2 separate regions of the Homo sapiens genome follow, and region 2 is linked to region 1. Evidence: fine-mapped expression QTL. A gene starts in region 1. The other region holds a variant in brackets. All regions are shown on one strand. Distances are between the middles of the regions.

Region 1 (5,385 bases):
ACACATAGGCTAAAAAAAAACCCACTGCCCAGAAATCATTATAGAAATCTGGAAAGGATAAACATACATTTTTGGACACAATTTACATTTGTCTTTATTACTAGATTTGTATAGGATTATGTCAATCCAGCATAAATTTCAATGATCTTGAAAATAGTTTTTTAGTGTTCCGAAGTGAGAAACGTAACATCTTCACTTGTGAATTCCTAGTGAAATTCCAAGAGGCAGAAAGTCCCCTTGGAGTTAAGAACAAAGCTAAAGTCCTACTTCACCTATTAGCAGAGGAGTAACATAAAGAAGACTATTGAAATCCTTATATCAGTCCTATGAGAATTCATCTGGCAGCAAAATATTCTCAAACATTTCTAACAGAGGTGATTCCATGATCTTTCATCATTTTGTAGTTTAAAAATTGTAGCTTTCCTCGTTATCAATGAGAAATGCCTGTGGAATATTGTCCAAAACCTTTGTGCAACTTACCTTGATGAGTTATGATAAAAAGATGTTCATCATGGATTTTATTTCCTTTTGTTTCACTTTGCAGTTCTTGTGCATTCAAAACTTTTTCCAACTTGAAATGAAAAATAAAAAGCCTGTCTGAAATTGCAGAACTTGGTTTTTATGAACTTTAGTAAGAAGTAGAATATGATAATGACAAATGCTCCTCCAAACTCAAAATTCTCAGAAACCAATCTAGTTTCTTTTAAACAATGGACGAATCTCATCATAAAGAGTGAATTGAATTTGTGATTTTTATTCTTCTCAGAAAATTTCTATTTGGTAGGATTTTATCATAATAAATCCTATTAAGCTCTTTGAGACATCATATCCCTTTTCATGAAATGAATATGATGAAAACTTGAAAACTTGCTGAGCTGACTATGCATTTGGCATTCTTTTATTCCCCTAAAGAGCCTATTCTAAGAATATTTTAACATTCTTTATCAGTTAATCCTTAGAAACTCACCGATGAAGACATCAAGGACTAATCATTTTGCCTCTTAAAAAAAATAGAAGACAAACAGGCTGAAACTTGGCCCAGAATAATCTCCCAATACCTCATTCATTAACATCCCTCTTTATATGTTAATGATTTTAAGAAAATTCTCTGTGTGCCTTTTACATTTCGACTTCATGATAAGAGATTTAAAGGAGAACTTTTTCAAGATACATTTGCAGTTATCTAGGCTGACATTTATTAACCATGTCTTATCTATACAAGTTGCACAATGCCTGTGAATTATCCACAGTGTATCTTATCATGTATACGCCTCCCAGATTCTGGATTCTCTGCTCTTACTTCCACTGGAGATATGAATTTTATCCTATAAGTCTCTTGAATTATTCTAACAAAAGTTGAAAACGTAAAAGTGTTTATGAATAAAAATATCCTTAGGTCCAGAAAACGATTGGTGACTTTCCCTAATTCCAAGAAATAAAATCATAAAAAGTCACTTGGCAGAATTGAGTGCCTAACAATGGACACCAAACCCTGTAAGGACCCTGCCACTTACATGCAGGTAGTTCCCATAGATAAGACCTCCTTTGCTGGCTCTATTCACACCAGTTTGTGATTTGTCTTCTTCGCTGCCTTCTACGGGGAGTTTTTTAAAAGTATATCTGCAAATTTAATAAATCAAGAGGGAAAAATAGTGCTTTAGAAAACACAGTTAACTAATGATATGGGTGATTAAAATTCTCATTGCAAATTTTCTTTAGAGTAGATTGTTAGACAAAGGAATAAAGGTGACAGTTTTCAATGCTCCTTAAATTCAGAAATTAAAATGCTCACACCTGATACTTCTAAAAGCCAAAACCCACTTAGAATAAAGGTAAATACTCACCCAAAGTTGTTTCCTAAAAATGGGCACCCACTCATGGTGAAAAGGCACTGTCTGAGAAGCACGGAGGTTTGACTCTAGGCAGATGCTATCATTGACCTTCCCAGATGTTCTACAGCTGCCTTTTATGTAGCCTGCTTACCCTGCATCAGCCAATCAGCATGCTTCTTGTACTCTTAGCTAACTTCTCATTTCCATTGGTACAGAACTGAACCTCTGTAAACTTTAGAGTGGATTTATGTTGGGCACAGTTCATTTGCTAAGAGTGAGTGATCTGCCAAATTGAGTTGTATGACTTGCCAAGTTCTGCTTTTATATTCAAAGTAACAAACATCCAATGAATCAACAGAGGCCAAGTTAAAAAAATTACATTTATTCAATCCCAAGAAAACATTTGGCATAGTATTAGGATACATAAGATGATGAGCTTGTAAAAAACAAATATGTATTCTCTCAAATTTGAATATTCTTACAGCTTCTAGACCAAAAACTGAAATTTAACACCTCTAGGGAAATTAACTGTATAATAAAGTCTGGGTACATGCTCAAAGCCCACTTCCATTCAATCATCAGAGTTCTTCTGACCTAAATATCATGTAATAATCAGCAGCAGTTAAGCTCTCAACACATTGTATTGGAATTTAAATGAACATTATCAGTTTACTATTCATCTGTGGCATACCAATGACAGGGTAGCTAGCAGTCATCCACATTAGCATACATTGCCTATATAGAATTTTAAAACAGTAGTTCAAGACCAGCCTGGCCAACGTAGCGAAACTCTATCTCTACTAAAACTACAAAAAAATTAGCCAGGCAAGGTGGTGCGTGCCTGTAGTCCCAGCTACTAGGGAGGCTGAGGCAGGAGACTCGCTTGAACCCAGGAGGTGGAGGTTGCAGTGAGCCAAGATTGTGCCATGGCACTCCAGCTTGGGCAACAGAGTGAGACTTTGTCTCAAAACAAAAACAAAACAACAACAACAACAACAACAAGAACCAATAATAGCCATGTGCCCATAATTCTATACAGTGTCAGTGATAAAAATATTCTTCCTTGAAACATCATTTATTAATCTAAGCTCTAAACAATTGCCCCAAGAACAATTAAGCCAGGATAGAAGCTTCATGGCCTTATCCTTAGCATGCCACTGCTACTCACTAAGAACTATAGGCAGAAACAGCACTTAGCCTTTATTTAATCATCTACCATGATGGAATTTTGTCTAATTAGCCAAAGTCATTGGAAGTCAGAAACCTGATTTCTAGTCTTGGCTCTACGACTACCTTGTAATATGAGAAAAACTGACTGAATTTCTGTACATATCAATTTCCTCACCAAAATAGAAAGTGTTTAAGCTGATTATAATCTTCAAGATCCTGACCCAGGTTAAAATCTTGATTTTATTACTGAATAATAAATTATATATCTAGTACAGAAAGATAAACAACATGCAAATGCCATGTTATAATTGAACTTGAAAATCATCAAAACTATATGCTATACCTGTCACATTTCCCTTGAGTTTTTATGAATGATCCTGGAAATTGCCTACACACTGGATAGGGACCTTACCTGAGAGAGCGGTGGAGTCACTGTTGCTTTTCCTGGTGTCCTGGCTTAGAGTGTTTGGAAGCAGAGAACAGTTAACAGCCCCTCTTTCTCTACATAGTTGTTCAACTGGGTACGTGTTTACAGAGAATAATGCTAAATAATTTATTCCACTCTCTTTAAGCCTTTTGAGCTGAGAAGTTTCCTTCACTTATTGGTCAACATACTAGTAAAACAAATAAGGAAACAAATTTTCCTATGAATTGGAAAAAATAGATATTTTAGAAACAAAAAATTTTTTAAAGAAATGACATTTCACTCTTAAGTAGTAGTATCAATTCAATATTTGCTTTTACATCACAAGAACTGATCATTGAAAGACTTGACTTTGGGGCATCAGAGAAACTGCAAGCTAATCTAAAAATAACTTATTTTCTTCATCCAGGAGAGTAACTACAGTGGAAGGCCCCCATACACACACATCCTCATTATTTTTTGCAATAGCATTATCAAATGTATTACTAGTTATATTCTGGTCATCATTTGCCAATACTTAAATTTTGCCACTTCGAACCCAATTTGTCCATCTGATGATAATCTAATTAGGAAACTTTTATTTATAATCACATTTAGAATTTATTTCTTATTTTTATTTTTATTTTTATTTTTATTTTTAGAGATGGGGTTTCACTATGTTGACCAGGCTGGTCTTGAACTTCTGGCCTCAAGCAATCCACCCATCCCAGCCTCCCAAAATGCTGGAATTACAGGCATGAGCCACTGCTCCTAGGCTCAGATTTAGAATTTCTATGACTATAGTATCTACAGCTCCCTATTTATTTATATATTGAATATTTTACACAGACTTTCTGGAAATATACTTTAACTCAAATAATACAATGTAATAGAACCTCAGACATTTAACAGATCAAGAGAGGAGATTCTACGGGTACAGGCAATGATCTGCAGTAACCTTCTAAACCCACTCTATTTCCATATGCACATAATTCTGTGCACACATGGCTTAGAGAAGGAAGATGCTGGAGGCAACACTGGTAGATGAGCATGTTTAAGAAGATGCAAATCGTAACTAATTCTGGGCCTAAAAGTTACCCTAGAAACCATCTAATCTATATTCAGAAGTAAAAATACTAGAAAGCTAAGAGATATAGCAACTTTCTTTTTCAGACATGTAGTAAAAGAATATGAAAATCAGATATAAAGCATTATAACAAAAATCTTTGTCTCTAGGTCTTTCCTCTTGATTTCTAAGGTTAGGGTGCAGAAAAGAGTGAGCCTGCGAGGGTAGAGCAATGAGAATTAGCAGGAACTTGCATTGAGCTAAACTCTGAACGTGAATAGGAGTTTATAAAGATCATCCCTTCAGCCATCACAATATTTCTTTCTACAAAGCACCACATGTGCTCTTCCATAAGATGTTAACTTTTCTTTTTCCATCTACCCTTCACAGCTTAAAACTGCTGCAACATCTTCCTGTCTGCCAATGCAATTTCCCACTCTTTTCCTTACTCAACAGTGGTAGATTGTGGCAGACACAGAAATGCTGACTCAGTAGGGGAATTCTGAAAGGATTCTGCACCCTTCTTCAAATAGCCCAGAGCAACCCACAGTTGCTCCTGACATTGACCTCAATAATTTATTTATGGCTCTTTTCCTGTCTCAACTTCCTTAGTCCCTCACTACTTTCTGGGAACATCTCCCAGATAAATCCCCATCCCCCAAATCCTTATCTCGGGCTCAGACTTTCTTATGCAGAAGCCAATCTAATACATACAGCTCTTGTTCATCAGGAGCTATAATATATTTAGGAATTGAATAATTACTTTTTTTAACAGATTTTTTCCTTTCTAAGCCAAGAAGCATCTGTAAACATAGCAGCCATTCAATAAACTTTAGTTGACAAGATAAATTGCCATTTGGGCTGTGAAGTAGCTTTTTTCTTGTCCTTGTTTTGTTGTTCTAACGTTTTCTTTG
Region 2 (5,391 bases), 62 kb after region 1:
GGTTTCGTTGATGCTGGGATCATCTTTGTTATCCATTCACCAAAGAAGGTGCCACAGTTTGATGGGTTAGGCTTGTTGTCACCTGTGGGAATGCACGCAAGGGTAACCATCCGCCAAGTGAAGGTAAATACTCGAGTCTGAGGAAATTAGGTGGGGTAGTGAATGCATCAAACACATAAGTAATGCTTTTCACTAGAAATTCCTTTCTCCCATGCCTGTAAAACACCATTAGAAATTCCAAAATTTCATTTCAGATTATTTTCCTTTATCTGAAGGTACATGATTAGTGGAAACAGAAACTATGTAAGTGAAAGCTGGGAAGCCTATCAAATCCAAACTTTACATTTCATTAGAAATGGAAAGGGTCATTAAGTATAAAGAGGTACCTAAGTTGCTGAGCTATGATTCTTCAATGAGACTATCTGGGAAGGAGAAAATTAGTGGGAAAAGCAGGAATCTTGGAGTCAGGCTGGTCTGGTAGGTTTCTGTTTGCCAGCCACTTACTTGCCCGGTAACTTCTTTAATTAGCTTCCTGAATTTGCATCTCCTCTCTGCACAAATAGGGAAGGGGTAATATTTTTCTTTCATAGTAAGGAAGTTTAAGTGAAGTACCATAAAGAAAGCACTTACCATTGATAGACACAGGAGACAGCCAAGGGCCCCTGGTGAAACCCTGCCTTCAAACCTAAAACAGCCTGAAGGCTGAAAAACTGGACTGCTTGTCCCAGATGAAGGCTGTCCTTTCCCACCTGATTCTTTCTGAAAAATGCCCACCTGCACATTGGGAGGAAGGGGTGGAGCCTTGGGAAGTTTGCACTGTTTGCAGTGGGGAGGAGCCTGGCCTCTCATGTTCCTGTGTGGTGGCCTGAGATTCAATCTGTGAGGTGGGAAACCTACCAGCAGGACTCTCTCTCACTTAGCTGAGAGTCATTTTTCTTTTTTTCTTTTCACCCAATAAATTCCATTTTCCTCACCCTTCTATTTGCCCGCGAGCCTCATTTTTCCTGGTCATGTGACAAGAGCCCAGTTTTAGCTGAACTAAGGAGAAAGTTCTGCAACACCATGTTGCCTGGCACATAATAGTTGCTTATTAAAGGATCTTTTTAAAATGTGATTTTCTTCACTGTTTTGTAGGTGAGCTGATTACTACACTAATATAACATTTACATAAATGATATTTTTTCCTTATATGAGTTGATTTTTAGAATACTCAATGTGTCTGACTTTATTAATTCACATTTGGGATATATGTTTAAGGATCACTATTATACTTAGCTTCAGGGAATTTCAGGTCAATAGAGTAGGCAAAATAGACAAATGTAACCAATTTTGGTTTTGAAAATCAAAGAGCTCTGAGAGGAAAATAAAAATGTGTACCAGCTTCTTGATGGAAAATAAGTGAATTGATGTAAACACATCTCCTGAACCCAGTATTTATCTTATCTTAAGACAGTTCATCAAGAATACCCTTGGGGAGAATGCAATCCTAACATCAAGCTGCAGAATTTTAGCAGCTACAGCACTTCTGGTTGCTTGAAGGAATGCAAAGCCCAGCACATAAAAAAGCAATGTGGATGTGTGCCTTTTCTTCTTCCTGGTAAATAAAGACTAACTGCCCCCTTACTTAACTAGACAGTTAAGTGTTTCTTAGAGGGTTACAAAAGGTCTGGGAGAAATAGAGTATTGAAATACAAATGGAATATTAAGTATTATTAAGTGTAATTACAGATGTTGCTGACCCATTCACAGAAAAATTATTATATTCTTAAGCCTGTTCCTTCTCTTTGCAGACTAAAATGACAACTAATAACAAAGTCACCAGAAGTTTAGTCCTAAATTTCTTTGAATTTTATGTTTATATTTACTTAATTTGAAACATAGCAAATCAACATATCACTAAATTGTTTTCCATTCTTCTGAAATTCTACACTGGAAAATTATCCATTTGCCAGGTACAACTTCGACTGACAAATTTTACATTATAAAATCATCGCAGAGATTTCTGGAAGAGAAAATTGCGATATCAGGGTGGGGCCCCAATACTTACTCCCAAAGGCTAAAATTTGATGGTCTCAAATATCTAAAACAGCACACCAAGATTTTCTTAATTTTGAAAGAAAAATTAGATCATGGATATGTCTTACCAAGCCTGAAGATTTCACTGTTGAAAAGTTATTTTCTTTGGGACTGTAAAATTAACTTCAGGCCTCCTTTTCATACAATTTGCAACTTTTCCAGAACCATGGGTGAGAGGCAAGCATTCAAGGAAGCAATGGAGCAGGGTGAATAAGAGCTGGATCTCAACCAGGCTGCTCATGTCGGCTCTACAATTTCTCCCCTAGGTGATCTTGAACAAGTGACCTAACCTCTCTCCTCTGCTGTCAAATGGAGGAGGGGATAATAATCCCATCTTATAGGGTTGTTGTAAGAATGAAAGGGGTATGTAAGTGGTTCAAATAGTG[C/T]CTGGCACAGAATATAGTCTATGTAAATGTCAGATATTTGTATTCAGGTCTCTTACATCCCCCTCCCACAGCATATCTAGAAAGATATATTGTAACACAATCTACCTGCCAAAATATTGTAACTGCCCAACGGGCTCACCATGCCTGCTGCCTAGACAGAGCTGATTTATCAAGACAAAGGAATTGCAATAGAGAAAAACTAATTCATGCAGAGCTGGCTGTGCGGGAGATTGGAGTTTTATTATGACTCAAATCAGTCTCCCTGAGTATTCGGAGATAAGAGTTTTTAAGGATAATTTGGTGGGTAGGGGACCAGTGAACCAGTGAATCAGGGGTTCTGATTGGTGAGATCAGAGATGAAATCATGTGGAGTTGAAGCTGTCTTTTTGCGCTGAGTCAATTCCTGGGTAGGGGTCACAAAACCAGATGGGCCAGATTTTTGTTCTGGGTGGTGCCAGCTGATCATTGGAGGCAGGGTCTGCAACATATCTCAAGCACTGATCTTAGCTTTTACAATAGTAATGTTATCACTATAAGCAATTTGGGGCGGTTTAGAATCTTGCACCCTCCAGCTGCATGACCCCTAAACATAATTTCTAATCTTGTGGCTAATTTGTTAGCCCTATATAGGCAATCTAGTCCCCAGGCAGGAAGGGAGTTTATTTTGGGAAAGGGCTGTTATTGTCTTTGTTTCAGAGCTAAACCATAAACTAAGTTCCTCCCAAAGTTAGTTCAGCGAACGCCCAAGAATGAACAAGGACAGCTTGGAGGTTAGAAACAAGATGGAGTCAGTTAGGTCAAATCTCTTTCAATGTAATAATAAAAGTAAAAAATATATAAAATATAAATATAAAATATGTATAAATATAAAATATATATAAAATATAAAAAATATATATTATATTATATATAATATAAAAAATAATAAAAGTAAAAAAGATATAAATTTTGCAAAAGTGGTTTCATTATTTTCCAGAGGTTTCCATAATCATCACATCCTTCTTTTTAGTATCCAGATTATTGATCTCTGGCCACTGCAAAAACTGCTGTTCTATATAAAACTGCTGGCTCTGGCTCTGATTTCTCATTCCTAATTTATTGGCAAAGTTGCTGGAAAGAAGTCTGAATTGTTTCATGCAGAATAATGTTGACAATTTTAAAAGTTATGATTATTAAACCAAAACCTACTGGCTAATGTGGACCAGAAACTAGGCAAGGTGCTATATAAAACACAAAGAATGATATCTGCATGAACTTTAGCATATATATCAAATGCATTCAGGAATATGATCTTATTTGGTTAGATTCTCACACATCCCTTTAAGTGTACTGATATATGAATAAACGGAAGATTCTAAACGTTAAACAAATTCGCTGAGGTAATTCCACTAACAATTTGAGGAAGCAATCTCCAAAACAGCTTTTCAGATATTGGTTATTTCCAAAATTTCATTGTTCTTTTGTTTGTTTGTTTTTATTTTTGTTTTCTGTGTTCCATCTACCATCTTTTTTTTCTGAATTGCTCTTTATAATGGAAGAAATATTATTGCCAGAGCAAGAAATAATTCAGAAAAATGAGGTTTTTTCCTAACTCAGTGTTGGAGGTAGTTTTTTTTTTTTACTTATTGTATTTTATTCATAAAGAGCACTTCCTTACAGTTAGCCAAACATTCCACAAATTGTCCGCACGTTGTAAGTGGACAATCTCCTTTGGTTATTTTCAAGATTACTGACTAAACATTGTGGCTAACTGCTGAGTCACATGGGCTATAGCAATAGACAAATATTGTATTAAGGCTAAAAGACTAAGTCTTTAGAATCAGCCGTAGGAGTAAACCCAGCTCTGATACATAGTGATTTTCTACTTATCTCACAATCTATAGTGGGTACTTAACAAATATTGGTACTTACCTGCCCCCTCCCCATCCTACTTCTGGAATGGCAGTCTGTCAGGAACGTGTGTGTGTGTGTGTGTGTGTGTGTGTGTGTGTGTAAATGGATAGAGGGAGCAGGATGGAAGATGTACAGAATGTGCCAAGTTTCCCCTAACTGTGTGGTCTTGAGCAAGCCACTCTTTCTGAGGCTTAGTTTCTTTATCTGTAAAATGAAAATTCTCATATGACAGGATTGTGAACCATATCAAATGAGATGATAACTGTGAAAGTAATTTTAAATTTGAAAACTACTCACATTTGAAAATTATTATTCCCGCTTAAAGATTTTAGAGTGATATAGACAGATGGAAAGAGGTATGGAAAGAAACAAAAGCATTATTCTTCCTCCCAACACATATTTTCACTGGATACTAACTTGATTCCATAGTTTTGCTTATGAAAGAATAGATGTTCATATAGAAGAATGGGTGGGTGGATGAATGGATGGATAGATGTAGGTAAGAAAGGTATTTTTGTCATTAGATCACTTATTTTACAAAATGTAAAGTCTCTATATGTTACACTTATTATTTTTAAGGATATGGGATAGAATGTGACCTACAAAAGTACTTCAGCTGTGTTTCTCCTGTACTTGGTAAGTGCTTAATTTACTTTTATTTTCAGGATTTATATTAAAGTTGCTCAAAGTAATATAAGACATTAAGTCAAACTATGGATAGCCCAGAAATTAAACAGAATATAGTATATAAGAGAAGATCTTTTTGTAAGTGTTCTTAAATAGTAGCTAACAAACACAGGCAGTATACACAAACAAAAACCCTCTGATATTAAGACACATCTAAATTTTTAAATTTTGTTCTTTTTTATAATCAAAATATCCTAGCTGCTTTTTATTGTTTCACAAATAAAACAAGTTTATTGTGAATAGTTAAAATACTACAGAATAGAAAGGAAATCATGTAAAAATAAATAGAAGTTTTATTACTGAGAACTCCTCTCACTGATTGGGAATAGTCCTTCATTCATTCACTTTA

Which allele goes with the higher level. Positions count from the first base shown, and alleles are read on the strand shown. Sizes are in standard deviations (SD) of each study's normalised expression.
For the expression in sigmoid colon of the gene that starts at base 1,942 in region 1, allele T in region 2 goes with a lower level than allele C (small effect, 0.28 SD a copy in GTEx).

The links. PIP is the estimated chance that this variant, and not a neighbour inherited with it, causes the effect. A credible set is the group of variants that fine-mapping cannot tell apart.
Region 2: its variant is the best candidate, but not a certain one, in a credible set for the expression of TDO2 in sigmoid colon (GTEx, PIP 0.52).

Annotation. Positions count from the first base shown.
Region 1 is chr4:155,900,253-155,905,637 of GRCh38, reverse strand. It overlaps TDO2 (tryptophan 2,3-dioxygenase), which reads right to left and starts at 1,942. Exons shown (of 12, transcript NM_005651.4): 1 at 1,845-1,942; 2 at 1,515-1,620; 3 at 481-571. The coding sequence starts at 1,879.
Region 2 is chr4:155,838,413-155,843,803 of GRCh38, reverse strand. It overlaps ASIC5 (acid sensing ion channel subunit family member 5), which reads left to right. Exons shown (of 10, transcript NM_017419.3): 5 at 1-123; 6 at 1,450-1,597; 7 at 4,935-4,991. Among named protein-coding and RNA genes, the nearest start is that of ASIC5, 25 kb to the left of the region's middle. The variant C/T (reference allele first, on the strand shown) is at 2,463.